Homo sapiens: one gene and its partners. The protein of the gene in region 3 purifies or fractionates together with the protein of the main gene of each other region. This does not show direct contact. Each region holds a gene or a part of one and is shown on either strand. Other genes may lie near its edges.

The links.
Region 1: the proteins of NELFCD (region 3) and SEM1 purify together in Homo sapiens (co-immunoprecipitation; one large-scale study listed by IntAct). This does not show direct contact.
Region 2: the proteins of NELFCD (region 3) and SPTLC2 purify together in Homo sapiens (affinity purification with mass spectrometry; one large-scale study listed by BioGRID and IntAct). This does not show direct contact.
Region 4: the proteins of NELFCD (region 3) and COPB2 purify together in Homo sapiens (affinity purification with mass spectrometry, with the first as the bait; one large-scale study listed by BioGRID). This does not show direct contact.

The regions. Positions count from the first base shown.
Region 1 is NC_000007.14:96,700,759-96,709,682, reverse strand, and holds part of SEM1 (26S proteasome complex subunit SEM1), read left to right. Parts: intron 1-8,924. UniProt on the Homo sapiens protein: Component of the 26S proteasome, a multiprotein complex involved in the ATP-dependent degradation of ubiquitinated proteins.
Region 2 is NC_000014.9:77,604,513-77,613,436, reverse strand, and holds part of SPTLC2 (serine palmitoyltransferase 2), read left to right. Parts: intron 1-8,924. UniProt on the Homo sapiens protein: Component of the serine palmitoyltransferase multisubunit enzyme (SPT) that catalyzes the initial and rate-limiting step in sphingolipid biosynthesis by condensing L-serine and activated acyl-CoA (most commonly palmitoyl-CoA) to form long-chain bases.
Region 3 is NC_000020.11:58,990,449-58,993,770, reverse strand, and holds part of NELFCD (negative elongation factor C/D), read right to left. Parts: intron 2,862-3,322; coding exon 2,696-2,861; intron 2,460-2,695; coding exon 2,325-2,459; intron 1,891-2,324; coding exon 1,751-1,890; intron 774-1,750; coding exon 659-773; intron 323-658; coding exon 227-322; intron 148-226; coding exon 7-147; intron 1-6. UniProt on the Homo sapiens protein: Essential component of the NELF complex, a complex that negatively regulates the elongation of transcription by RNA polymerase II.
Region 4 is NC_000003.12:139,377,343-139,386,266, forward strand, and holds part of COPB2 (coatomer subunit beta'), read right to left. Parts: intron 8,088-8,924; exon of another isoform or gene 7,662-8,087; intron 6,094-7,661; coding exon 5,956-6,093; intron 2,125-5,955; coding exon 2,038-2,124; intron 1,832-2,037; coding exon 1,705-1,831; intron 848-1,704; coding exon 699-847; intron 1-698. UniProt on the Homo sapiens protein: The coatomer is a cytosolic protein complex that binds to dilysine motifs and reversibly associates with Golgi non-clathrin-coated vesicles, which further mediate biosynthetic protein transport from the ER, via the Golgi up to the trans Golgi network.

The DNA of each region.
Region 1 (8,924 bases), on a different chromosome or scaffold from region 3:
CGCTGGGCCCCGGTTTCTGTGTCGCGCGAACGGTGACTCAGGCCTCCGTGTGGAGGTAGCTTGGGTGCTCGGGCCCAGCTGGGGGCACCGGCGGGAAGTTTGGACTCCCAGGGCCGGCACTCGAGGCGCTAACGCTCACCCCTCAGTGGCGCCCCAGATTCGGGTTTGGGGTGTTGCGCTGGGACTCACTGGTGAGGCCCAATGGCTTCGGCTTCCTCACTGGGAGGAGCCACCGTGAGTCTGGACCCATAGCCCCGCGTCTGTGATGGTTGGTCCATTTACTGTTCACCTGGGTTACTCACCACTTAAACTTAGTTCAAGTCTACATAACCTCCTTTTCTTTTTGTTTTAGCAGTCTTTCTTTGTCTTTAAACCTTTCCAGAATTGAATTGTCAGTAGTTACGCCAATGCTGCTTAACTTTTAGGATGTTACAAATGAAGCCTCATTAAGTAGGATAGGAGGGTAAGATACGGGGTGCTTAATACACATTATTGCCTCATTCCTGTTCCTCACCATTTTGATCACTTAACTGTGACCTAACTTAATGCTTTATAAGACCCTAAAACTTGCCGGGTGTGGTGGCTCACGCCTGTAATCGCAGCAGTTTGGGAGGAAGAGGCAGGAGGATCACATAAGGTCAGGAGTTCAAGACCAGCCTGGGCAACATAGCGAGACCCTGTCCCTACAAAAATAAAATATTTTTTTAAAAGAACCTAAACCTTACACATTTTTTTTTTTAGCTTCAAAACTAAAGACCTGGTTTTTTCATTGTAGATAATAGCAAATTGCTAACATTTATTGAGTGGCTGTTGTTTTCAGGAACTTGTCTAAGTGCTTTACTTGTAATAGCATATTCCACTTTCATAAATATAAGAAGTAGGCCTCAGTATTGCCATTCTTCAGATAAACTGAAGCTCGGAATGGTTAAGAAACCTTCTGATGTCTCATAACTAGTTAGAAATAATAGAACTGGAACTGGGAAACCTGGCCTGATTGACACCAAAGCTCTTAACTTCAGCTGTACTGCTTCTGTTTGTGAGATTGCTGTTGCCAGTTAGGTTTTCAAAATAGGCTGCTTTATTGGCTGATGGTTGATGAGTAGGATTTGTAAATATTTACCTTATAAGAAAAGGAGATTACTTTCTGAAGGTGGTAGAAAGAGAATTGTGGTTAATGGGGTACACATCCTGTTGCATCAAGCAATTACTACTTCACTAAAATTGTCCCAAGTTGTATACCCTATGATGATCCTATTGTGCATAAAACCACATAGCTGGAACATTTGTTCTATTTATAATGTACTGTTACTTTGTTTAGTGGAAGAGAACATTAGTGTACATGCTACAGAAACTGGTAAACTAACCCAAAGCACATTTCTTTTCAGTTCTGGAATTAATTATGTGTTGTAGGCATTCTTAGTTTTTTGTTTTGGTAATGGATTTATCTATTCAGTCATGTTTTCTTTAGCTCGCTTTCAAGTTGCTTCATAATCCGCCAACATAGAGCTGTGTCGTAGAAAGCTGGCCTATTGAAGGTAGGATCTACTTCTTACTCAAACTTAATACTTCAAATAGCATTCTTCATTATCATATACAGGGTGGAATGTTAGGCACTTTATTTGCATTACATAATCTAATTATCACTATCACCTTGAGAATATGGAGGCTTAGAGACAAAAAGAAAAACAAACAAACAAAACTTGCCATTATGTCCAAGCCAGGATCTGAAAGGTCTAACTCCCTGATCCAAACTTTATCTGTAACATTTAGCAAAGTGCCTGATACATAGTAGGTGGTCAATAAATGCATGTTGAATGAATGATGAATGAACCCGCATTTAAAATGAGTAGTTAGTTGATAATTGACTGCTTAAAAACGATCTAGAGATAACTATGTACCTGATGGTACACTTGATTTTTTTCAGCAACTTTCATCAGCTTTTGCGAGTGTAGTTTGTGCTTGTTCTAAGTTTATATGTGAGCAGCAATTTTTCAAAGTGTCAGTAGTTATATAGTAAAACAAAACAAAAAGGTAAAAGGAAAAGCAAAAAAAAATTATTCTTTCTAAGGACAAAAGACTCACAACAGACTTGTTTATTAACATTAAGTAATTGACCATTTATGGGTCTCCTTACAGAATGTTTGTTGTCTTCAGGTATAAATGTGTAGAATTAATTCATTCAGGAAACTTTCCATTTTAGAGTGAGAAACATTTTTAATGCCTTTATTTTGTTCAAGTTTCTCTTCTCTGGTTTATGATTTGGAGAGGTTTTTCTTAATTTGAATTTGTGAGAAAATCATCCCACAAGGTGAAACCACTCAATATTTACTCATGAAAGTTGTTCTGATGAGTAACAAAAGCAAAAGAAAAACACTTCAGAAAATATCACCAAAGAATTATTTCTTTTCTGAGAATCTACATTTCCGACATGTTTTGGTCTAGTCAAGGTTTAGAGTCTGTTACTATTCAAAATGTGATCCATGAAACAGCAGACTTGGCATTGCCTGGGAGCCTGTTAAAATTGCAGCATCTCATCATTCCTCAAACCTAGACCTACTTAATCAGTGTGGGCTTTACCAGGATTCCTAAGAGAGATGTTTGAAAAAACATTAAAGTTTGAAAAGTATTACTTTAAAACAGTGACCTATTTTCAATCTTTTGGTATTTGAGTTTTCACTTCAAGTATTAATGCCCTGATTTACTTTCAAGTTCTTTCTGTACTTTGGAAAATTATTTTTCTTGTAAGTATGCCATTGACAAATTCACTAACAGATACAAATTAAAATTGGTGTTGTTAAGGCAGCCTATGAACATCTCTGCAGTCTATAACAGATCTTACTTTCAAACGCTTTGTTGAGTGTCAGTGCTCCAGAAAGTGGATTTTATCCACTCTCGGGTAACTTGGAGTATAGAGGTTGCCACATGAAAGTCGTTACTGGTGGTTCGACTAATAGATTTTCTTTTGGGAGTGGGTCTTTCTTTTGGGAGTGGCGTTGCTACATCCCATCTTGCATAAGAATATGTTTGGTAGGATGTTCATTTAATCATTTTAAGGAAAGGGAATTTTTATTGTTTCTTCTCTCTCTCTTTTTTTTTTTTTTTTTTTTTTTTTGTTTGTTTGAGATGGAGTTTCACTCTTGTTGCCCAGGCTGGAGTGCAGTGGCGCGATCTCGGCTGACTGCAACCTCCACCTCCTGGGTTCAAGCGATTCTCCTGCCTCAGCCTCCCGTGTAGCTGGGATTACAGGCATGTGCCACCATGCCCGGCTAATTTTGTATTTTTGGTAGAGACAGGGTTTCTCCATGTTGGTCAAGCTGGTCTTGAACTCCCGACCTCAGGTGATCCACCCGCCTCTGCCTCCCAAAGTGCTGGGATTACAGGTGTGAGGCACCATGTCAGCATAGTTTCTTCTCAATAGCCCTTCAATGTAAAGTGCAACATCTGGAAGGAGTCTCTGAAGGTACAAATGCTGCTTTTATTTTTTCCCCCATTCTATAGCCTGTGAATTGGTGCTACATTGGCATTTCCTCACAATTATTCTAATTGGTGGGTGTGTAATCTTCTGGTCATTAAGCAGGAGCTGTAAAAAATCATATTTAGGATCTTTGTGATATACAGCCTCCAACTTCTTGACTACTTAAACTGATTTAGAACAGCCTTTATTAGGAAGACATTCAAGGTCCTGGGTGTGATTGATTTTGATATGATTTTGGAAGCTTTGAAATGGTTAGAATTCTAGGACCGGAGGGCAACTTAAAAGTCTAGAGAAGATTTCATTTTTCAAATCATACGGTCAGGTTGGTGGTGATAGAGTCAAAAACTGAAGTAGTCTATAATTTATTTAAAACTTTTTTTTTTTTTTTGAGACAGAGTCTCGCTCTGTCACCCAGGCTGGAGTGCAGTGGCGCAATCTCGGCTCACTGCAAGCTCCACCTCCTGGGTTCACACCATTCTCCTGCCTCAGCCTCCCTAGTAGCTGGGATTACAGGTGCCCGTCACCACGCCCGGCTAATTTTTTTTGTAGAGATGGGGTTTCATGGTGTTAGCCAGGATGGTCTCGATCTCCTGACCTGGTGATCCGCCCGCCTCGGCCTCCCAAAGTGCTGGGATTACAGGCATGAGCCACCGCGCCCAGCCTAATTTATTTAAAACGTTGACTACTTTTCCATATCAAATTATTGAAAGAGTTTTAAAAAATATTTTTATTAGTTTCTCTGACAATTAGATGTGGATTCGAGTAAAAGAGGGAAGAGAACAAGTGCTCCTTTAGATTCTTTTATTCTCTTCCTGTGCCAGAATTGAAAGGGTTTTTTTTTTTTTTTTGAGAGAGAAGCTTTTTTAGAATATTTAGAATGAAATTGAGTTTGCCTGCAGCAGCAATAGCGTTTACAAGAGTGATATTATACTAAGTATTCTATACTTTTTCTGTATTAGGTGAAATTTCTATATAGTCTGAAGAAATCAGGAGCAGAATACTACCCACCTTCCCACCCTCTGGCCCCTGGAGAAATTTCTGGATAAGACAGTGTTATGATGGGAATCTGTCTGTTGAGGCAGACAACAGACTGGTGATCCCCTAATGCTGCCAGCATTCTGGAATAAATGAGGCATTATCACCTGTGCCTTAAAAAGTATGACATCTTACAGTGGTTCTTAACCAAGGGAGTGTTTTTGGATGTCACACTGACTTGACAGGTAGGAGTGTAGAAAAACTGCCAGCATTTAGTGGGTAGAGGTCAAGGATTTTATATTTGTGCCTGCACGAGGAAGAACTGCCCTGTGAAAAATGCTATTGAGAAATATTTATGTGAACAGCATATACCAACAGGACTAAACATTCAATAGGAGGATTCCTTAGAATCTTAAATGTAGAAGATAGATGTGACCAGTATTGATAATGTCACACACCATGCTAGTCAGTTTACCTAGTGCCAAAAAGGGCTTTTGCTGTTTTTGCATTATTAAATGTAATATAGTGGACATAACCATTAAACATTTGAATTAGTTACATGGTGGTAGCAAGAAATGGAGAACTCATGTTACTAAAAATTTTTAAGAAAAAATGTGTAATCTGTATAATGATTCGAAGAGTACCTGTTGAATGTCCATTTTTGATAATTGTGTGCAAGAAGAAAGTTTTTGAACCCCAGGATAGAATAAGCATGATGAATCTAGGATTAGGCCTAGGTTCAAATCTACCATTCATAAACTTTCAGCTAGTCACCTCATGCTAGTTACTTAACTTCCTCTTTAAAATATTTTTGTAGTATATTATATAGGATAATTGTATAAGTAACCGCTTATGGTAAAAATTTAAACTTAATGAGAGTATAAATTAAAAAGTAAAAACACAGTTTCCCTCTACAATTCCCCAAAAAAGTTATTTATGTCCCAGTGATAACCAACGTTAAATGTTTTTTTCTTTAGTATCCTTCCAGAATGTATTTATAAATTGTACTTGTTTGTATGTATCCTTTAAATACATACACAGAAGACATACGATATATACTATTTCCTCCTACTTGATTTTTATTATTTAATGTATCTCAGGTACATTTTTGCATCAATATAAAAATCTACCTCATGCCCTCATTGTGTTCATCTTAAATAGTCTATTTAACTAGTCCCTTCTTGATAGATATTAGGGTTTTTTCTTTGGTTCTTTTATGTATGTGTGTGTGTGTGTGTGTGTGTGTGTGTGTGTGTGTGTTTTTAAGAGACAAGGTCTTGCTCTGGTGCTCTGTCACCCAGGCTGGAGTACAGTGGCGCTGTCACAGATTATTACGGCCTTGAACTCCTGGGATTGAGTGATCCTCTGTCTCAGCCTCCCTATCAGCCTCCCTAGTAGCTGGGAGTACAGGCATGTGCCATCTCACCTAATTTGTTCTTTCAAATTTTTTGTGGAGATTTGGTCTCGTTATGTTGCCCAGGCTGGTACTGAACTAATGGCCTCAGCAGTCTTCCCATCAGTCTTCCCAGGTGCTGGGATTACAGGTGAGCCACTGCACCTGGCCTTTAAAAGAAAAAAAAAAAATGGAATATGCTGCAGTGAATAACCTTATAGCTTTAGGGTTTTTGTTGCTTGGGTTTTGTTGTTTTTTTTCTGTTACAGATAATGAATATGTTTACATCTTTTTGTGTGTGTGCTAATCTATAAGATAAACTCCTAGAGAAGAATTGCCAAATTGAATTGGCAGACTCATTTTTTATAATATAATTTTTATTTTGAAATAATCTCAAACTTACAGAATAGTTGAAAGTACAGTACAAACATTTTTCTCTAAACCATTTGTGAATAAGTTGCCAACCTGATGGCCATCACTCCTGAGTATTTTAATGTGTATTTCCTACAAGGACATAGTCACAAGACAACCATCAAAATCAGGAAATTAACGCACTGATGCATTACTATAGGTTGAGCATCCCAAATCTGAAATCCTCCGGAATCTCAAACTTTCTGAGTACCAACATGAAATTTCAGATTAGGGGATTTGGGATGCCCAGTTGTAAATATATAATGCAAGTATTTCAAAATTCAAAAAAATACAAAATTTGAAACACTTCTGGTCTCAAGCATTTTGAATAAGGGATACTCAACCTGTATGATCTAACCCACAGATCACTTTCAGCTTTCTCCCATTGTCTCAATAATGTCTTACTATAGAGTCCTGGATTACATTATCTTGTCCTGTCTCTTTAGTCTTCCTTAGTCTAGAGCATTTCCTGTTTGTCTTTAACTTTAATGATTTTCACACTTTAGAAGACTACAGGCCAGATATTTTGTAGAATGTTCCTCACCTGTGCCTATTTCCTCATGATAGAAGTTCTACATTGTAGTCCTGGTGCTCTGTTCTAATGACATCTTTTTAGGTGGAACATTATTCTCATTTGTTCCATTACTGGGGATGTTCACTTCAATCACTATTAAGGTGGTGTTTGTTAGGCCTTTCCATTGTTAGGTTACTAATTTTCCCTTCCTAATAGGCAGTTTTGGGGGAGGGACTTTGAAACTATGTAAATACAGTATTCCAGTGATCATCAAACTTGTAACTTGTTCATCTTTTAAAAAATGTATAGCAGTGTGGACTAGTGGATTCTGACTCAGTAGGTTATAATTTGTAACTATTATTTGGATTCTCAGATTGTCCCATATTTGAACATGCAGAACTCCTTCAGGCTGTCTTCTGTGTCCTTTTGCCATGTCTCCATTATTCTTTGTGCATTTCCTAGCATTCTGGCACAAGGTGTATTCCAAACTAATTTTATATGTGAAATCAGCCGTTGCTCCAATGTGATTTCTTTTTAGTGGAGAATGGTATTTAGAATGCAGGGTCTTCACTTTGCTTATGTTTATTGCATTTGGGATATTCCTGCTCCCAGACCCTCTAAGTGGAAGGAACTAGGGATGTACAGGAGTGTGTGTGTGTGTGTATGTATAAAACCATGGGTTCACACAGATGTCTCCAATTGCAGTTCAACACCACTGGATTCATTCTAGTTTTTTCCCTTTCTACATTTGTTATTCCCTTCTCCAATAGTGAGAAACCTGGCTTCCATTATCTTCAATGTATTGTCTATTTGGTCATCCCCCTTCCTAACCAATCTTTGCTGCCCCCAACAGGTGCCCTTCTTGCCCAACTTGGGCTCCACATTTTATGCCAGGCCACCCTCCCATCCTCTAGTGTGGGTGACTTCGTTCTGTCCAGGCTCTGACACACCAGCCACACCATGCTGCCCCTCTCCAGGAATGCCCTCCTTGCTCTACTTGGGCTTAGACACCTCATCTTAGACCTGGCATATCTTAAATTTTGACAGATACTCTCAAATTGCCTTTGAGAAGGGTTATGCCAATTTATGTTTTCATCTACAGTTCACCTTTTCCCTCATAAGCTTGCTACACTAGATAGTAAACATGTTAGTCATTACTGACCTCATGAATGAAAAATAAAATTGTATCATTTTGATTTGGATTGATTTTTTTAAGTAAGATTAACCATTATGTTTTTCTCTGAGCTGTTACCATCTTAATCCTCAATTTCATTATCTGTAATATATGGCTAATAATATTTATTAGAGTCATGAAAGAATTACATTATTGTAATGGTTGGCCTGGGCTACCATAACAAAATAGCATAGACTGGGTGGCTTAAACATCAGAGATTTATTTTCTCACCCATTCTGGAGGCTGTGGAGTCCAAGATTAAAGTGTAGGTCGATACAGTTCTTGGTGAGGCCACTCTTCCTGCCTTGCACAAGGCTGCCTTTGTGCTGTGTTCTCTTGTGGCAGAATGAAAGAGTGCATGCTCTCTGGTGTCTCTTAAGGCACTAATCCCATCATGGGAGCCCTACCCGCAAGACCTCATTCAATCCTGATTACCTCCCGAATACCATCATATTGAGGATGAGGGCTTCAACATAAGAATTTTTGGGGGGGTTTTGGGGGGCCAGGGTACAAAGATTTAGTCCAGAACAATGATACATATGTAAACAGAGTCTGGCACAAAGTTGGTATTCAGTAAACATTAGTCTCCTTTTTTCTCTCCCCTCTAATGTACTTAGGAGTTTGGATTTTGGATGATGTTTAATATTTATTTAGAATTTGAGCTGTGTCTGACATGTATTTAGTAATTTTGAATATATTCAAAATTAAGCTTGTTAAATTTGTGAATTATTTGATAATTGATTTATTTTGCAGTATTAGAAACTTGTAAATTTAAAAAAATTGCCATTAAATGTTTTTCCACAAGTACTTAATAATGTGGTTATTCATAGAAAGACACATAAAATAGTAACATACATTATTTAGGGGTATATACAGATTGGAATGAAAAACCCCCAAATCAAGATGCTGGTGCTTGGGAAGGGATAGTGAGAGGTGTGAACCAGGATATTAAACACTGAAAAACTCTTTGAAAAACTATTTG
Region 2 (8,924 bases), on a different chromosome or scaffold from region 3:
TTGAACAATAGAGCAGTAATTTTTCCTCTCTGCTATTCAGATGAGTGGGAGGAGCACAAACCTTTATTTGAGGTAAGGTGTGGCAATTTGCCCGAGGGAAACTTTTACATTAGCATTGGAAAGAACCTTTGGGAGTTTATTTAATTCAGTCCTTTATCTCTTTGTAGGAGTTTATTAAAATCAGTCTTGATAGAAAATTCTGTACTGTTTTTAAAGATCTCCAGGGGATTTGCAGCAAGTTTTTCTCTATAGCAAATTGGATTATTATTCCATGATCTTAATTACCAAATTTCTTCCTGTGGATTTAACATTTGATGAAATAAATGCCATGTTTTGGTTGCACCTGAAATATAGTAGTTTGTTTGTGTGTTTGTTTTTAAAACTTCACGTTAACAGCTCTTTTTAAAAGAGCTTCCATTTCTTTATAGAAGTTTTGAGATTTAGGTTTTCCTTTTACTTTCCTGAGTTAGTTAATAAGTGTGAAAGAAAAAAAGTTATCTACCTTTGAGACAGTTTTGACCCTAACTTTTTTCCCTTTGGGTGTAGTTTTAATGAGATATTAGAAGGATGAGAGCTCTCTGGCTTACAGAATAAAAAATTCTATCTCAAGGAATTGGGGCAAAAGTTGTGTTCTTATGTTAAATAATAAGCAAAGTAGAAAGAACAAAGTGTTAGTCTTGCTTCTTAGGAGGAGGCAAATAAATAACTAATAAAGCTGGTTTACTAAATAGCTACTAGCTTTTGTTTCCACTGAGGGAGAAACAGTAACTGGGGGTTTATATGTGATAGTTAAGGAAAAGGAGACGATAGTTATGAGGCTAGAACAGTAGAAATAGTTAGAATAGTCATATATCTATTTAGATTTAGCAGATCCTGATAAGATACCTCAGATACCTGAAGGCTTTTCAGAAATAATGTAATTTACAACTTGGAGGACAAGATTTTCATTTCAGTTTTCACTCTAAGGGGAAGCATATCTTGATTCTTACATAGCTGCATCTGAAGAATTCCAGAGTTATTTGAGATACTCAGGAATTTTCTTTAACAGGAATTCTTGGGAAATGTGTAAGCAGCTATGTTCTTAAGATAGTATTTTAGAACTAGGATGTTCAGAAAAGTCAGACTTGCCCACTTTTTAGGGTTTGCCCATGTGCCATAGAAATTTGCACCGCTTTGAGCAAGACAGTTAATTGGTTGATTTAATTAGATTCAGTTTTTGGAAGAAAGAAGCAGTGTTTATTGGTAGAATAGGCAATTCAGAGGGATGGGTAGAGGCACTGTTTGCATTCTGAGTGGGTGTGCCATACTTGATTAAATAAATGGTTTGTGGACTCAAAGTCAGTTCCCTTCTGGGTAGTTTCTGAGAAGCTTCTGTAATATAATTCACAATTTGTGACCGATAAAAAAGTAAGTCCTTTGCTCTTGACCCATTTACTGTTAGAAAATTTATCTTAAGTTTGTCTTTAAGACTACTTTTTATTGCAAAGCTTGAGGCAGCTATTCTTCCTTTTTTAAAAAAATAATTTTTACTTCTCATTATAGAAATAATACATGTTTAATGTGGGATCATAAAACATTGAGATAATCTCTGCGTTAGGTTTTTTTTTTTTTGAGACGGAGTCTCACTCTGTCGCCCAGGCTGGAGTGCAGTGGCGCCATCTCAGTTCACTGCAGCCTCCACCTCCCGGGTTCAAGCGATTCTCCAGCCTCAGCCTCCTGAGTAGCTGGGATTACAGGCATGCGCCACCACGCCTGGCTGATTTTTGCATTTGTAGTAGAGACAAGGTTTCACAGTGTTGGCCAGGCTGGTCTCGAACTCCTGACCTCAGGTGATCCACCTGCCTCCGCCTCCCAAAGTGCTGGGATTACAGGCGTGAGCCACCACGCCTAGCCGGAGGTTTGTTTTTTAATGTGGTCTATTGTAAATCCATCTGCTACTTTCCGTTAATTTCTTTTCTTTCTTTTTTTTTTTTTTTTTGGCGAGATAGGGTCTCGCTCCAGCCTGGCCTGCAGTAGCACAGTCATAGCTTACTGCGGCCTCAACTTCTCGGGCTCAAGCGATCCTCCCATCTCAGCCTCCCAAGTAGCTGGGTCCACAGGTGTGCACCACTACAGTGGGCTAATTTTTTTTTTTGAGACAGAGTCTTGCTCTGTCACCCAGGCTGGAGTGCAGTGGCGCGATCTTGGCTCACTGCAAGCTCTACTTCCCAGGTTCACACCATTCTCCTGCCTCAGCCTCCCGAGTAGCTGGGACTACAGGTGCTCACCAACACACCCGGCTAATTTTTTTTTTTTTTTTGTATTTTTAGTAGAGACAGGGTTTCCCCATGTTAGCCAGGATGGTCTCGCTCTCCTGACCTTGTAATCCGCCTGCCTCAGTCTCCCAAAGTGCTGGAATTACAGGCTTGAGCCACCATGCCTGGCCTTTTTTTTTTTTTTTTTTTGTAGAGATGGGTCTTACTATGTTCCCCAGGCTAGTCTCTTTTTTACTTAAACAAACAAACAAAAATAAATAAAAATATATATATATAAAGAGAGAGGGAGACAGAGAGAGAGGGAGACAGAGTCTCACTATGTTGCCCAGGCTGATCTCAAACTGTTGGGTACAATCGATCCTCCTGCCTTGGCCTCCTGAAGTGCTGAGATTATAGGTGTGAGCCACCGCACCCAGCCACCCAGGCTGGTCTCAGACTCCTGACCACAAGCATCCTCCTGCTTCAGCCTACCAAAGTGCTGGGATTACAGCCACTGTAGCAGACTATTTTGTGATAATTTCTAAGTACAGTGAAATATGCGGTTGTACTGATACTATGGGTGTGATCCAGTCTTACTCCAAAAAATAGGTATTAAGGGCTGGGCACAGTGGCTCATACCTGTAATCCCAGCACTAAGGGAAGCCAAGGTGTAAGGATTGCTTGAGCCCAGGAGTTCAAGATCAGCCTGGGCAACGTGGCGAGACCCCATCTCTATTTAATTAAAAAATAATAAGGTATATGACCAGGTACCGTGGCTCACGCCTGTAATCCCAGCACTTTGGGAAGCCGAGATGGGCGGATCACTTGAGGTCAGGAGTTTGAGACCAGCCTGGCCAACATGGTGAAACCCCGTCTCTACTAAAAATGTAAAAATTAGCCGGGTGTGGTGGTGTGTGCCTATAATCCCAGCTACTCTGGGAGTCTGAGGTAGTAGAATCGCTTGAACCCAGGAGGTGGAAGTTGCAGTGAGCCAAGATGGTGCCACTGCACTTCAGCTTGGGCGACAGTGAGACTCTGTCTCAACAAAACAAAACAAAACAAAACCTCAGTTAGATACCATTTCACACCACTAGGATTGCTAAAATAATAAACCAGGTATTAAGTGTTCATGAGGATATAGAGAAATTAGAATCCTGATACATTGCTGGTGGGATTATAAAATGATGCAGCCACTTTAGGAAACAGTTAAACATAGAGTTAGCATGTGGCCCAGTAATTCTACTCCCAAGAAAAATGAAACATATGTTCCTGCAGAAACTTGTATATTAATTATAATAGCAGCATTGTTGATTGATTGATTGATTGATTCAGGGTGTTACTGTTACCCAGGCTGGCAGGACATGGCTCACCGCAGCCTCCACCTCCTGGGCTCAATCAATCCTCCCACCTCAGCCTCCCAAGTATCTGGGACTGCAGGCATATGCCACCATGAGTGGCAAAATTTTTTTTTTTTTGAGACAGAGTCTCACTCCGTTGCCCAGGCTGGGGTGCAGTGTGGCTCACTGCAACCTCCACCCCACTGGTTCAAGCAGTTCTCCTGCCTCCGCCTTCCGAGTAGCTGGGACTACAGGCACATGCCACCACGCCCAGCTAATTTTTTATATTTTTAGTAGAGATGGGGTTTCACCATGTTGGTCAGGCTGGTCTCAGACTCCTGACCTAAGTGATCCATCCGCTTCGGACTTCCAAAGTGCTGGAATTACAGGCGTGAACCACTGTGTCTAGCCCCACGTTATTTATAATAGCCAAAAAGTAGAAACAATCCAAATGTCTATCAACTGATGAGTAGATAAAATATGGTATATCCATATAAAAGGATATTATTCAGCAATACTACTGAAGGAATGCAGTACTAATACATGCAGGAGAATACTACATTGTTTATGGCCATGTGTTTATATAGTGAAAGTATTTAAAAATACAGGGGAATGATAAACACCAAATTCCCAATTCTTCTGAGGAGGAAAGGAAATATAGCATTTCCCCAGGACAGACTTCTTAAAAGGATTGGAGAACTACTTAAACATGTCAGATCTTGACACTGTCCTGATGGCCTCCTGTCACTAATAACAGAATACAAAATGGGGTTTACAAGGCCCACCATGAACTTTCCCATCCCTCTCTGACTTCATATCCTGCCAGGTCACTGCTTTCTAGCCAATCCGGGCTTTCTGATGTTCCCCAAACACATTGCCATCAAGCACCCCTCCCTGGGGCCTTATTATTATTATTATTATTATTATTATTATTATTATTATTATTTTGAGATGGAGCCTCAATCTGTCACCCAGGCTGGAGTGCAGTGATGTGATCTCGGCTCACTGCAACCTCCGCCTCCAAGTTCAAATGATTCTCCTGTCTCAGCCTCCCAAAGTGCTGGAATTACAGGCGTGACCTACCACGCCTGGGGTCCCTGGGGCTTTAGCCTTTACAGTTACCTCAGCCTGGAAAGCTTTTTCACAGAGTTCTCTTCCCTACTCCAAGTCCATCTGCTTACACCTTACCTCCACCCTGTTTAAAATGCTCTTTTTCCACGATTTTATTCTGATTGTAGCAGTGTGATCTGATACAGTATATCTATTTGCTTATCTGTTGTCTGCCTCTCTCACAGGAGTGTATTTCTAGTGCTCAGATCATGCCTAGCTCATAGCAGGGACTCAATAAGTATTGAATGAATAACTTTAATGTTTTATTTAATGGAAAAAAGATCTAAAGCATATAAGCTAAATCTTAAGTTTTGATAAAGCTAGATGTTGAATACAGTTTTATTTCTATTTTTTTGATGATAATTACTGTGTCATATTTCATACATACTCTGCTGGTTGACAAAAACTAGCTCCCTAAAATAATGTTACAGACATAAGTAAGAAATGGATTGTGGTGACACATAAGCTGTTAAAGAAACCCGTAGCCTAATTTATAGTGTATCAGGTTTGCAAGTGGTTTAAAACAATAGCGGTTTACTGAATGTTCTTACTAGCGTGAGGGGAGAGCTTGTGAGAAGTAGGAAGAGGCCAGAGAAGGTCCTGGGGTCTGGCACACTCTGATATGCTTCATCACCTCTCCCTAAGCTCTCCCTACAGGGCAGTGGGGCCAGTGGTGACTTTTGCGGCACCCTCTCCATTGTCTTACCAAGGGCTTCAGCTGTGAGACGCCGGTTGGTGCTACAAGGAAGGGGAAACGTGTCAGCTCTTTCCTCTGCTCTTTTCTCACATTGATTTCAAATGCCAAGAAGCTGGGCTGAGAAACCGGGCTTGTGATCCTGGTTGTACTGCAGTCCACCATGTGCTGGAGAGCTCTGCAGGTTGTGCTAAAGGGTAGTGTCTTTATTGCCTCCTGTATAAGCTTGACTTTTACATAGGCAAGCAGGTTATTTCCAGGACAACTAAATTAGTTGGTGCGAAACCTCATTTCCTAGAAACCCATTTTCTTAGTAGAGGAAACCCATATAACCATTTGTCTCCATGTAAGTGTAGCTAATAACATGAATAACAAAAATAGCTAATTATTTAAATAGCAAAAATAAGTATGGAAGATGAATTTGCAGTAAAATTCTAATATTAAGCCACTGATTATTTTAAAACAATCAGATTAAGTTGTAGTACCTCTGAAATAATTAAAGGAAAATTTGATTCTTAGAAAATCTCAATTCATTGGAAAGCCATGGAATTAATAAAATAAAAAAAGAAAATCTCAGGCAATATAAACTAAGGAATGGCAAATGGAAAATGTATTGATTGGTGGAAAAGTAATTGCGGTTTTTGACATTGAAAGTAATTACTTTTGCCATTACTTTTAATGGCGGAAACCATTTAATGGCAATTACTTTTGCACCAACCTATAAATAATTGGACTCTAGTTCCAACTTTGATATTTAGCTTTCCCATGACTGTTGACAAATTGCTTAATCTACTTTCCTTGATTTTGTCAGTCAAATGAGGAGGAAGAGACAGCTTGAGAAACATTTGTAAGAGAAATGCTTATTACTTTGTATGTGTTTTTCGTCTTACATATTAAATATAAATTCCTTTAGGTGATATTCTTTAAAATGATTTCCTTACTTCCTTTTATATTTACATCCATTTTCTCTTAAAAAAACAAACAAACAAAATACTGCACAATTCTTGAAGACAAGGATTACCTCTTACCTCTTATTTGTTTCATGAAATATAGAGTACAATTTTTTTTTTTTTTGAGATGGGTCTTGTTCTATCACCCAGGCTGGAGTGCAGTGGCGCCATCATGGCTCACTGCAGCTTCAACCTTCTGGGCTCAGGAGATCCTCCTATCTCAGCCTCCCCAGTAGCTGGGACTACATTCATGCACCACCACATCCGGCTAACTTTTGAAAATGTTGTGTAGAGATAGGGTTTCACTATGTTGTCCAGGCTGGTTTTAAACTCCTGGGTCCAAGCAATCCTCCCGCCTTGGCCTCCCAAAGTGTTGGGATTACAGGCGTGAGCTCCTGTGCCCAGCCTAGAGTACAGTTCTTGACATATAGATAGAAATTAAGTATTTGTAGAATGAGTGGAAAAAAAAATGAAATGATTATGTTGATTTTGAGTTTCTCGGTGGAATAGGGCTTTGGATTCCTAGAAGAGACTTTAATGTTGAAAAATTATTTTTGTAGTTTTGAAAATGTTAAAAAATTGAACATGAGAAATCTCCACTTCTCTGGGCATGTGAAATTAAAGGGAGGGATGATCAAGTTGTGAGAGATTCCCTAGGCCAGCAGTGCTGATGCAAGAAGGTGAACATGTAGACTGCTGTATTCTGTACACACACACACACACACACACACACACACAGTCCCCTCCCTCCTGGGAAAGCAAAAGTTGTTGTTGTTTTTTGAGACAGAGTCTCGCTCTGTTGCCCAGGCTGGAGTGCAGTGGCACGCGGTTTTGGCTCACTGCAACCTTTGCCTCCTGGGTTCAAGCGGCTCTCCTGCCTCAGCCTCCCCAGTAGCTGGGATTATGGGCGTGCGCCACCATGCCTGGCAAATTTTTGTATTTTCAGTAGAGAGAGGGTTTCACCATGTTGGTCAGGCTGGTCTCGAAGTCCTGACCTCATGATCAGCCTGCCTCGGCCTCCCAAAATGCTGGAACTACAGACGTGAGCCACTGCGCCAGGCAGCAGAAGTTTTTGACGATTTCTAGACAATGTGTGTAAAGACCTTTAGAGTCTAAAGTTAATGTTTGCATTTTGCAGTCTTAGGCAGATACAATGAGGTATAAAACACCTCTATCCAAACAACTGAGTTGGACTGGGCTGAAGATTTAAGTCCTTCAGTTCGGTGTAGTATCCCAAGAGTGGGATCCGTTGTATGTTTGTTACAGGCCACTCCCTCTAGCTTTATCTGCTAAGCACTGTGAGATTGTGCTTAATTTCACTTTGGTTTTCTAGTTCAGGCCTCCAGCCTGGAGGTGAATGTCCTGTGTAGAAAACTGGCCATAAATTTAGGGCTGTTATGAAATTTAGTCTGTCATGCCAACCCATATAGCTGTCATAAGTTCTGCTGGTTTTTCTTTCTCTTGATGGAGTTCTGCCTATGGCAAGCCCCAGTTATCATCACTCACGCTAAAGCTCTACAAGTACCACAAGTAGAGAGAGGAAATGGCTGGCACTTTCAGCTCACCTAGAGAGGCCTCTTCTCCCTCTGGAATTTTAATTCTGCTAGTCCTCTTTGCTATGCATAGAAGACAGCTCTTCAATCTTTAAAGCCATTTATTTATTTGAATAATCTATTTAGTTTTATCTAGTTGTTACTGTGAAAGCACTAGCTTGCCTCTCTCTATTAAAGCTAACCTGGAAGTCTCATTATTTTTTGAATTTTTGTTGCCACAAACATGACATAAGAATAAGTTTGTTCTGGGCCAGGCATGGTGGCTTATGCCTGCAATTCCAGCACTTTGGAAGGCCAAACTGGGAGGATTCCTTGAGGCCAGGAGTTCAAGACCAGCCTGGGCAACATAGGGAAACCTCATCTAAAAAAAAAAAAAAATTAACCAGGTATGGTGGCGGGCACTTGTATAGTCTCAGCTACTCTGGAGGCTGAAGTGAGAGGATTACATGAGCCCAGGAGTTTGAGGTTACAGTGAGCTATGGTTACGCCACTCTACTCCAGCTTGGGCAGCAACAGAGTGAGACCCTGTCTCTTTAAAATAAATAAATAGGCCAAATGTTTAAAGTAGAAAGTCAAAGTGGCCAGCCATTCCACTACAAGATAACCAGTGTTTTCAGTTTGATTTATAGCTTTCCAGATTAGCATGTGTGTGCATGACTTTGTCATTTTACCTTTTTTTTTTTTTTTTTTTTGAGAAAGAGTCTTGCTTTTTTGCCCAGGCCGGAATGTGGTTGCAGGATCTTGACTCACCGCAACCTCCGCCTCCCAGGTTCAAGCAATTCTCCTGCCTCAGCCTCCCGAGTAGCTGGGATTACAGGCATGCACCACCACGCCCGGCTAATTTTGTATTTTTAGTAGAAATGGGGTTTCTCCATGTTGGTCAGGCTGGTCTCAAACTCCTGACCTCAGGTGATCCGCCCGCCTTGGCCTCCCAAAGTGCTAGTATTACAGGTGTGAGCCACCGCATCTGGCCGGGAAATATTTTTTAAAAATTTCTTGAAGCCCTTAAAGTTTACAGGCTCTGCTAACATGATAAATACCCAATA
Region 3 (3,322 bases):
GCTGACCTCAGTGACAAAATAGCGAATGAGTGAAATGTCAGTGTCCAGCTTCTCCAGACACTTTCGGATGTAACTGACAACAGGAAGTACATAACCTCGACTCAGCAGGTGAACCATCCTGTCCAGCAGTGTCTTCTTCAACTCAAGCTACAGAAGAAGGGGGACAGGGAGCTGGTTAGAGAGGGTCCTCCTCAGCCCTCTGGCAAGCCCCACGGGCACTGCTCACCTGCTCCATCACGTCCAGCTGGGAGTGCTCAGTCTCAAAAAGCTTAACAAGCAGCTGCAGGACCTGGGGGTGCAGGAGCTGGTGGCAGGTGCTGATCTACAAACAGGCCAGAGGGAGCTTCGCTGAGCAGTGTGGTCACGCTCAGCACACAGAGAAACTGGGCACTGTCACAGCCACCAAAGAGCTTATCACTGTGGAAGAAGGTCCTGACACCTAAGCCAGGGCCATCAGCTTCCAGTAACACTTGACTGAGGTTAAGAAATTTCTGCAGTCAATGAAGCTAGGTCCTTAAGAGGAAAATCCTCAGGACAGAAATAACTATTTTTGAGAAGAGTATCCTCTAAACTCACTGAATAGATGCAATGTTAATGCCAACGTAAACAGCATGAGACAGACACTGTGTAGGCTGTGAACAGCTCTCCGCCCTCTTACCTCATCCAGCAACGCCAGGTGGACAGGGGTATGGTCAGTCTGCAGCTGAAAGTACCTTGGTTCTGATACAGTCCAATCCACCCACTTCAGCACACCCATTGCTACCACTGGAAACCTACAGTTAAGGCAGAATGCTTCCTTTAAAAAACAATTTAAAACACAAAATATGCTAGAAAAGCATTAAAGGAAAGTTAAAAACAAACTCAAATGACTCCATCATTCACCCTTCAATACGCCCCCCAACCCTTTTTTTTTTTTTTTTTTGAGACAGGGTCTCACTCTGTCTTCCAGGCTGGAGTACAATGACACAATCATGGCTCACTGCAGCCTCCCGAGTACCTGGGACTACAGGTGAGTGCCACCATGTCTAGCTAATTTTTTGTAGAGAGAGGGTCCACCATGTTGCTCAGACTGGTCTCAAACTCCTGGGCTCAAACTATTTTCTTGCCTTGGCCTCCCAGATTGCTGGGATTCCAGGCCAGAGCCACTGTGCCTGGCGTAAGCTCTGCTTATTAGTAAATAGTGTGAATGGATCAGCAGCCACTCAACATGCGGTGCAAGAAGCAGAGTTCAATTCTCTGCTCACTTTAAACCACTTATCGAAAGGAAAAGATCATTAATGAGTGATACTCAGTGAGTTTGGTGGACTGGGTTGAAGTTTACCTTTATTTAGCAAACTCTTTCTTCATCCCTAGTATAAATTATTAGGGGAAAGACATGCCTAAGAGGACACACTATTTCTAGGACACGTCTATTTATATGATTGGCATAATCACAAATCATTTCTATGTAAGCAATACTTTGTGGGCATAACTTTACCTATAAATAGACCCTTCAAATCAATTTTTGTTAACTCTGGCTATCTTTTACTTAGCCTAATTTGTACTCAACAGACTTCTGGCAAATAAACATCTGAAAATTACTCATGCTGCTAAAGCTGTTTAAAGTTCCCTACATACTGTTTAAAAATGAAAAAATAAATAAAATGAACAAGTATCGCTGAAGCTTTTGTTATTTGAGCTTTCAATATGAAAACTCAAACGACCTCCTCCCCAAAGGACTGATTTAAGAACTGAGTTTCGTTTTGCTTACCTAATACACTGATAAAGTGTGCTCAATTCTGCCACTAGTTCAGAGGCCCCTTTGTTCTCGTTGCAACACAAATTGTGAACGGTTTCGACAGCTTTTGACGTTGACTTCAGCTCATCTTTATTGATGCTCACTCGCTTGTTCTGAAAACACACACACAAGCTGGTGAGCCTGACAGGGCAGATATCCCTGCTGTCGGGGTGTTCTGGTGTCGGCCACTTCTTGCAAAGCACTTTCCCTATTTCTACTTAAGTTGGGAGTCAATTCAGCTGTCAAACTTCACAGTCACACAGTGTACAGAAACTGAAAAGCAATGAGACTAGTGTTTGTCCATGTCTTACGGAAATCAGTTTCATTTCTTTAGTCACATTTCAATTTACGGTTTGCAGAGCATTGGAGACATTACGCACATTTTCTGGAGACGTTTAGTGCTTTCTCTACGCAGAAACACAAGAAAACACATGCCTGATACTAGGGAGGGTCAAGATTTCTTGCAGCCAAAATTCCAAAATAATATCAAAGCAGAGGAGGATATTTGTCTCCTAAAAAATCCACAAATTCCCAGAACCGATGGTACCTTCTTCCAGGTCTCAACCACGCTTGCTGCGTACGCCAAGATGTGGATGTATTTGTGCTTGTGGTCCTGGTTGATCCGAGCCCCTGGTTTAAAGAGTGACTGCATGAACAGGTCCAGGAAGGCTGGAACGCGGATCTGAGGAGAAGCATATGCCCAGTTCGGGATGGCAGGCGTGAGGGCACTGCTCACCCACCTCCCCTCAGGGTTCCCTACACAGCAGGGGCCCAACAGGCTCCAGGCAGAGAGTGTGACTGAGGAAGGACCAGGACAATGATGGATTTGCATTCACAGCCTTCAGACAATCAGACAAGCACAGACTTTCCAAAGTCACCTTACCAGCTGACATTGGGGATTCTTGAGAAGCAACTTACAAGTTCAACCGGAGGAGGGTCCATGCTTGTGAACATCTTGAACAGGACGGTGATGTCAGCAGGGTTCAGGGCTCCTTTGGACAGCATGGCCCCGAGAGCCTGGCAGGCCCTGGGGTAGGAGGCAGCTGTGCCCAAGGCTAGTGTGATCTGACTGGCGTCATGACCTCTTGATGAGAAAAACCATAGACCCCGTTACTAACAAGGCAGCTTCTTTTTTCTGTTCTTTTTTACACATATAATACTTTGCATTGTTGGGATCTGTTTTTCTGTCATTCACGAGTATACTGACTGACCCACAAAAATAACATTTACAACACTGGAAAAGTGATTCCAATACAGCTTGCTGGCTCTATAAGAAAGGAGTCACACACTTTAAATACTTAGGAACACTCTATTGGTAGCAGAAAATAAAGCTAATATGAGCTCATTTTGCGACACTGTAACAATGAGATTGCTGAGCAACTATTTCTGGACTGACTTTGTTTGTTACTTCAGAACCCCAGTGTAAAAGCCCAGGCCCATAACTCCAGCAAAGGGAAGACGAATCAAGTGCTTTACACAACAGTCCTCAAAGCAGCACTTTAGAAAGCCAGCTCTCCAAGTATACCAAAAACAACTCCAACTTTT
Region 4 (8,924 bases), on a different chromosome or scaffold from region 3:
TTCTCAAGAGTAAATATTTGTGCTAAACCTTAAAAGCTGAGTAATTCTCCGGAGGAAAATATATCAAAATAGGAAAATAAAGAGAAGTGCAGGAAGATGGAACAGTTCAATGAAGTAAGGTTTTGTGAACATTCATAGCCTCTCTAGAGGATGGTGAGTAGACCAGGGTTTTAGGAGATGTCGCATAATATTAGCCCAGGCTAGTCCTGGAAATCCTTGTATTCCACACTAAGGCATTTGGACTTTATCCTTAGATCAGGAACTGTTTCAGAAAGATAACAGACAGCAGTGTGGTAAAATGGAGTAAGAAAGAGAGAATAGAGGCATATGGAATTTAAATGTAAAATAGATAAACGATGAGCAGAAGTCAACAATGAATACTAAAAGGAGAGGACAGTAGTATCCTAAAAAGATATTGGCATTTTTCTTATTCTGGGTTTCCAAAGGCTAAAAAATTTTTATAACATGCTGCCTCCACACAGAAAAACGCTCCTCATTAAGAGCACTGAGTTGCCACAATATTTTTCTAAACAGAACATGTCGTTTGGATTAAAATGAGAAATCCTATTTTGACTTCAAAACAGGCTTTTGAGGAAAATTTTTAAGATGGGTACATTTCTGACCAGTCAACAGTAAAACACCTAAGGCAAGTATAGTTCACTAATAATGATAACTGACACAAAATGTGGATGCCCTACCTTGATAGTCCTGTCCAAAGAGGCACTGGCAAACTGATTGTTATCTTTGGGGTTGATCACAATCTGCATAACATAATGGGTGTGTCCTTCAAACACTTGTGAGCAAGACCATTTTTTATCCCAGTCCCAGAGCTTAATAAGCATGTCATCTAGGCCAAAAGAAAGTCTCAAGTTAGTTGTAATTCTATTTTTTCACTTCATAACTAAGACACAGTCTTTAGAAGAAGCAAACCTAACACAAACCATATAATCCATGACTTACAGAAATAGAATCAAAACCAAATAGAGTTTTCAAAATGCTTATTTATCTTAAAAATAAATTTAACTCTCTACAGAAAAGTGGAGATAAAATAAATAAAATAGATTAGAAATAGAAAATATAAAAATTCTGTGAAAAAACTTAAAAATTCAGTGGGCATTAAAGAATGGCCAAAGAGTAATATAAGTTTGACTAGATCTAAGCATGACTGAATAGTGATAGCAATGACTATGTAGAGAACAAGCATTTGCCCTCACAAGATTGGTTTTTAAAAAGTTTTTAATTACTTCTCAATTTTTAATTTAAAAACATTTCAAAGAGCTATTACTAATTCAGTGCTACCTCTTTTTCCAGTCCTCCAAGAGGTCTACTATTTATACACAATACCAAGGAGCAAACTAGTTTGAATATAAAGATTGAACTGAATAGGGTCTATGGCAATCTGCCAAAAACTCACTCATCAACATGTAAATGACCTTTCTGTTCAGCAGATGTTTAAACATCTAGACTTGTAGGTCTTCTCTGACAGGAACTGGAGCAATCATTACACAAATCCTAAGTACAGTTGATATTTCATTATAGTACAAACACAAGCAGCATCAATAGCACAGTAATGGATCTAAATAGTTTAAAGGCCGCTTGGAATTAGAATTATATTTGTAACAGCAGTTAAAGCATAGCATGTCTCAGTGAATGAAAATGAATTACCCAAAGAGACGCACATGACCAAAAAAGGTCATCTCTTACCACTGCTAGTTAGAATGAAAGGCTGGGTTGGATGAACAGCAATACAGCGAATGTAGTCTGAGTGTGCTTCAAACATATGAACTCTCTCCAGAGTATTGTAATTGAACACTCTAATCTGCATGTCATCCTAGAAACAGAAATTTTAAAACCATCATCCCTGTTATCAAGTAAATTATACAAAAAAACTATATCACAGGCTCAAGGAATAAAGTCTATGCCTCAAAACATTGCTGTAAATAACAAAACAAATCGGGAATCAAAATCCTGCAACAAATTTACACAATCATTGACCAATTCAGAAAATGGGAATAGAGATTCATATTAATTACTTACCGCTCCTGTCACAACCCAATTCTTCCTTGCAACAAACTTTGCAGCTCGAACAGGAAGATCACATACTTCAAATGTCTTCACCAGTGTCTTTAAAATGTAACAAGAATACACAAATTGAGCTATAAGAAAATAACCACAAAATCTACTCTGTTATATTTCAAACATCCAATTTTTAAGATCACTTCTCATTTTAGTATATTCTCAGGCTAAAATATAAAAGCTCAACATTCAAATTTTTAAAAAAGACCAACTATCTTTTAATAGATTCGAAATTAAAACACTTTTTAAAAGATAAGAGAAGGCAAATATCCACAAGATGGTATTCCAGATCCTCTGTGCTCCAGCCCTTCCCTCCCTTTTCCAGCCTCACCTTTGGCTACTCCCAGCCTCACCTCTGCTCTTGTTGTCTCTGACTTGAAAATCCACCCATGGAAACTTGTACTTCCCTTTCATAATGTAGCACCTCATAATTATGTTTAGTGCCAATCTTTCCTGCTAAGCTCTCCAAAGGCAGGAATATTTTTCACACTGTATAGGCAGAGGATAGAACAGTGGCTGGCACACAAGTAGTGTGTAATAAATATTTGTTGAATGAATTAGCTCTTAGTTTCTTTTTTTCTTTTCTTTTTTTTTTTTTTTTTTTTTTTGAGACAGTCTTACTCTGTCACCCAGGCTGAAGTGCAGTACAGTGGCACAATCTTGGCTCACTGCGACCTCCGCCTCCCAGGTTCAAGTGATTCTCATGCTTCAGTTACCCAAGTAGCTGGGATTACAGGTGTGCACCACCATGCCAAGCAAATTTTTGTATTTTTCGTACAGACGGGGTTTCACCATGTTGGCCAGGGTAGTCTCGAACTCCTGGCCTCAAGTGATCCACCCGTCTCAGCCTCCCAAGTGCTGGGATTACAGGCGTGAGCCACTGCACCTAGTCAGTCTTTTTGAAATTGAAACCCATAAAAGTGACTCATGAATAAGGTACAATTCTTTTGCATGCTTTAGCAATATGATTCCATACAAATGTTATTATTTCTTTTTAATAAAATATGAAAACACCGTGACTTATATGTTCCTCCGAGCTGCTCAGAATGGAATTATACACATAGGATAAAGGTAGAGACCCTCCTAGAAAGAGCAGAGATCATGGTACCTCTTTGTTCTCCTTCTTTGATGCCTGTTCTTAAAAGTCTGAAAGTCAAACTATCATTTTCTAATCCTTTTTTGTATCAGAGAGCAAAAATGAAATAACTAAGAAACACAATATAATCTTACTGATTGATTAACCATGTGCACTAAAAAAGTAATAGGGACCGGTTCATAAGAACTGTCCTACTCTGACTTTTCAAGCCAGAGTTCAAAGATTCTTTAGACAAAGGCTGAATGAGTAGGCACTTCAACTCTAACCTGTAGAATCACTACCAGCTGACTATGATACAGAAACTGAGAGTAGACACAACATGCGATCTATAACACGGCAGAAAAATCCACAAAAGCTCATGAGGAGCCAACAAATCCAGGGATCTGCTGAGCAGTAAAAATAAAGCAGCTGCAGAAGAAATAGCCAAGGTTCAACGCCATGTTAGGGGCTATGACTGATGCAAATAAAGAGTAAGAAAAGCTACACACACAATACATACAAATACTCAACGTAGATTAGGAAAGTATAACTAATGACTAATACTTATATGGTACTTTATAGGTTTCATACACAATTTTATCTAATTTTATTTTATCTTTTTGACAATCCTGTGATGTAGGCAAGGCAATAATATCATCTTCACTTCAGATAAATAAAGAGGCTCAGCATGGTTAAAAGGCTTGCCTATATAATTTAATCAGCAAGTTGGCTTCAAATCCTAAAATACTATGTTTTTTAAACCACTGCATGTACCACCTCAAAGAATATATAGCATCTCCTTATTTGAAATTCAAGTACATCTAAAAACCTTTTTACTTCCAAAAACCTTTTTGGCTCTCTCAAGAATTTGCTCTCAATATAGGAGTGGTAAATGCTGTTGGTGATATAAACACAGGGAAAAAACAGGGAGAATCAAAGACAGATTAATCATTCAACAAAGACTTACTATCTACCAGGAGCCTGACAGTGTATCAGGTAGTGCCTCATGCACTGGACCAACAGTGGGAAATAAGATGAGGGTAATCCTTGTCCTCACAGAACCTCCATTCTTAGAGGAAAGAAGGAAATTAAACATGAAATTACCACTGAGATGAATTATGAAAGGGGAAGCAGATGGTCCTGTCATAGGGCAGAAAAAGGTATAGAAGAGAAAAAGGAGGCAAAGTGGAAATGCAGATAAAGCAGAGATATATTACAATAAAGCCTAGAGAAAGATAAGAAAAGTACGCCTGGGCTTTAGAACATACGATGATCAAGTGATAGAGCTGAGATAGGTAAATGTAGCTGATAAGAGGGAATCCCTAGGAATAATCAGAGAGAGAGGACACCAACGTATCTGTTAAACATAAAATCAGAAATATTTTAAACATCTCAAGAACTAAACAAAAAGCAAAAAAAAAAAGTTATTTGCATCAAAGCAAAAACAATTCACAAGATAAAGATCTGAAATTGTAGAGAACACAAATACTGAACTAGTGATAAGTGAAATGCATATTATTCATTGGTTGAACAAATAATTATTGAGCATTTACTATGTGCCAGGTAATGTTATAGGTACTGAGATACAGCAGAAAACAAAATGTTAATTTATATAAAATGTCACTGATGGACTATGATATGGTTTGGATTTGTATCCCCACCCAAATCTCATGTCAAATTGGAGGAGGACCCTGGTGGGAGGTGATTGGATCATGGGGGTGGATTTCCCCCTTGCCGTTCTCGTGATAGTGACTTCTCATGAGATCTGATGGTTTAAAAGTGTGTGGCACTTCCCACTTTGCTCTCTCTCTCCTGCCATCATGTGAAGAAGGTGCTTGCTTCCCCTTCACCTGCTGCCAAAATTTTAAGTTTCCTGAGGCCTCCCAGTCATGCTTCCTGTTAAGCCTGTGGAACTGTGAGTCAATTAAACCTCTTTCCTTCATAAATTACCCAGTCTCAGGTAGTTCTTTACAGCAGTGTGAGAACAGACTAATACAGGGTATGAGTTTAGTGTACAGTCATTTCTGTTTCATTACAGTGAGTATAAAAGTATAAAGGTGTTTTTAGGTTTACTTCTGGCTTTGGTTCCTTGATGTCATTTTGCCATTTTAAATTCCTCAAATGCGAATTTTACCTGGATTTCAAGAACTTAACTTTGGACGTTAAGGATAATTACTATATAAGTAGACACAACTGTATAGTATAGTGCTAACTATATGCTTTGTACTCTTAAATACAGTCTAGGAAGACTGGAAAATATGAGACAAACTAATTTGAAGGATATGTTATTTACTCAGGTGAAAGAGAATGAGTCAAGCATTCAGGCAGACAATCTGTAAGATGTGTGTATAATCAAAAGCTGACTATAAATATTTCCCTGATATAATCTATATGGCTGAGTGAAAGATTTATCTGTGTATCATTATATTGGGCATCTGGGAGAAAAATAAATTTAACGATATCATTCTTAAGATAGAGTATTCACTGAATGGAAAACTAACGATTAAATACTTTAGCAAGTGATTCTATAATACCATCAGTTTTCTCAATTTCAAAAAAGAGCTAATACTACCTAAGTCAGAGTTGTTATATTTAAATATTGTATATAACATACCCAGGACAGTTTCTCCTACAAACTATCCCCTCATAAATGTTAGTTCCTTCATATTTAAAATACTTTGTACCAACTTGAGAAAGCAGTTTGCATATAGATTCTGGATTCTGTTATAATATTTCTTCTCTTTCATTATAAACACAGTCTCACATAGTATTTTATTTCTAATACAGTCCTGAAAAATTCCTACCTGTGTTTCATGATTCCAAACACACACACTGCCATTGTAAAGACTTGCCAACATCCATGGCTCTGTAGGATGCAGATCCACACTCTTAACTCGATCAGATCTAGCAGTTAGCTTTCTTTTGATATCAAGTCGCAGAGGCTAAAAAGAAACATTAAAAAAATTAAATTGCTAAGCCAAATAAAATATGTTTGAGATTTTAACTAAATAAGTGCATGAATAGGCCTACAAAACAATTCAGCTACTACTTTGCTAAGCTTTTGAAACAGTTTCAAGTCTAAGCACTTATTTCTTCATTTACACATCAAAAAAATCAGAATATTCAACATTTTAAGATTTACAGCAGTGGTCTTCAAGCTTTTTGCTCTAAGGATTCCTTTATAGTCCTTAAACACTTTGAGGACCCCTAAGAGCTTTTGTTTATGTGAGTTTTAGCTATTGGCATGTTACCATGTTAAAAATTAAACCTGAGACAACTTTAAAATATTTATATATTAATTCATTTTCAAATAACAAAAATAAATCCAGTACATGTTAATTAAAATAACATGTTTTTATGAAAAATAACTATGTTTTCAAAAAATTTAGTGAAAAGAGTGGCAATATTTTACATTTTTGCAGAACTCTTTATAATCTGACTTAACAGAAGACAGATGGTTTCTCATTATCTGCTTCTGCCTTCAATATGTTGTGATATGTTGTTTTGGTTAATGTCTACAAAATAATGCCTGGTCTCACAGATACCTAGTTGGAAAGTGAGGAGTATCTTAATAGTTTTTTCATTACTTGAAATTCTTCGAAATTCGAGAAGTGGTAGTTTCTTAAAGGCTACTTGCAAGGTAAAATCTGAAACCGTATCAATAAGCTGTTTATACTTCGTTACATTAAAATCCATTGGTTAAGTCCATACTTTGAATGGATCTTTCTCTCATGCATGTTTTTCTACCATTAAGCATTGGTCGTTTGGAAAATGCTGGTCCACTGAATTATGCACATCTTCTAGATGCTAACAACATCATGATACTGTATTAAAAAAATTACACATTCACTAATTTCACCACCTACTTCAACTGATAAGCCTTTAAGCATTGGAAATCCATCAAGTTCAGTGAGTTTTTCAAAATTCGAACTTTCACTTGAAAGCTTTAATTTTATCATTGGCAAGAAATACTGTCAGGGACCAGCCAACCTCTTTCAGGTTTTTAAAAAATGTCGACCAAATATTCAAGTCTGAATAAGCAGAGTTTCTCAGTCATTGTTTCAAGTAAAGCTCACAACTTAAAAACGCTACAAGTGTTTCCCCTTGAGACAACTACGATACTTCGGTATGCAGTAGAACTGCTTTATGCATACTCCCCATTTCACCACACAGAATTTAAAAGATGCATACTCAAGTGTGGAGAGGTAATAACATTTTTACTGTTTCATCAATGACATTCTTAAGTGAAAATGACTTTTTAAAAAACTGTCACAATGAAGAATATACTAACAGTACAATTTGGTGTCACTTCACTAGCAGTTTTACCTTCCACTACTTTTACACCATCAGTGCAAATATCAACATTGTGAAAGGTGCCAATAGCGTCTCACTGTTAAGAAAATAATTTTAATTTGTGGACCTCCTGAAAGAGTTTTAGGGACTCTTAAGGAATCGCAGACCACATTTTGAGAACCTCTAGTTCATAGAATTATCTAGTAAATAAATTTACTTTTTTTCTTTTTGAGACGAAGTCTCGCTCTGTCGTCCAGGCTGGAGTGCAGTGGCGAAGTCTCGCTCTGTCGTCCAGGCTGGAGTGCAGTGGCGCTGATCTCTGCTCACTGAAACCTCTGCTTCCCGGGTTCAAGCGATTCTCCTGCCTCAGCCTCCCAAGTAGCTGGGACTACAGGCGCATGCTACCATGCCCAGCTAATTTTTTGTATTTTCAGTAGAGACAGGGTTTCACCGTGTTAGCCAGGATGGTTTCGATCTCCTGACCTTGTGATCCGCCCGCCTCGGCCTCCCAAAGTGCTAGGATTACAGGCGTGAACCCCCGCACCCGGCCAATGAATTTTAAATATTCACAAATCACAATTTTGTGCCCAGGTCAATAGTGTCATATCAGGAAATATTCTGAAGAAGTGTTATTCATGAAGTCCTAGTAACCATAAAGCATAATATTGAGTTCTTTGGAGAAAAATGGTAGATTTATCTTGTCAAAAATACTAGTAAATGCTAGGTAACATAATGTGTGATCAATAAGGGTTATATCCCTATGCATGATGGCCTTTGGTATCAAATGGGAATGTCTGAAATATTTTAATGGATTTAAATTACAGAAACAATGAAAATTGGAAAAATTTAAAACAAAAATAAAAACATTCTCTCAAGTCAGAAAATATGAATAGTTTATACTAGCATTTTCAAGCCAAATTCTTCCTTTGAATTACAGAACAGATAATTATTTGAATAACTATTTTCTCCATTCTCCAAAAAATGCCATTATAGGAGAAAAGTTAATTCAATATATACAATGATCCTTAGGGCAGTGGGCTTAATTCTCTCTAGGAGGCATGCTGAGAAAAGACTGATTTAAAATATATTTCCCCTTCAACAGGTCTTAAACACAACCTAAAAGCTCATTTGGCAAGTTGAGTTACTGTCAAATCTTTATTGCTGTGATCTTCTATGATGATCATGAATGGGACAGAAATTTAAGGTTACTTTTGAATATAAAAAGAAGATCTAGCAGAGACAACTTCCTGAGACAAAACACCTCACAATGCTTTTACTCATCTTTTTTGGGGATTTTTATCAAATTTGGGTCATTGACTACTTCAAGTCTTGTTCTACCCACGCCTCCTTCATTTTCAGCAACAACCTTTACCTCTTACTTTAAAAGATCAGAGTTCTCTGGCTCTTCTCTTCAATCTCCTCAAAAATGTTTTCACTGTCATCAGTCCCTTCCTCTCTCCAATTTTCTACTTTCTTGTTT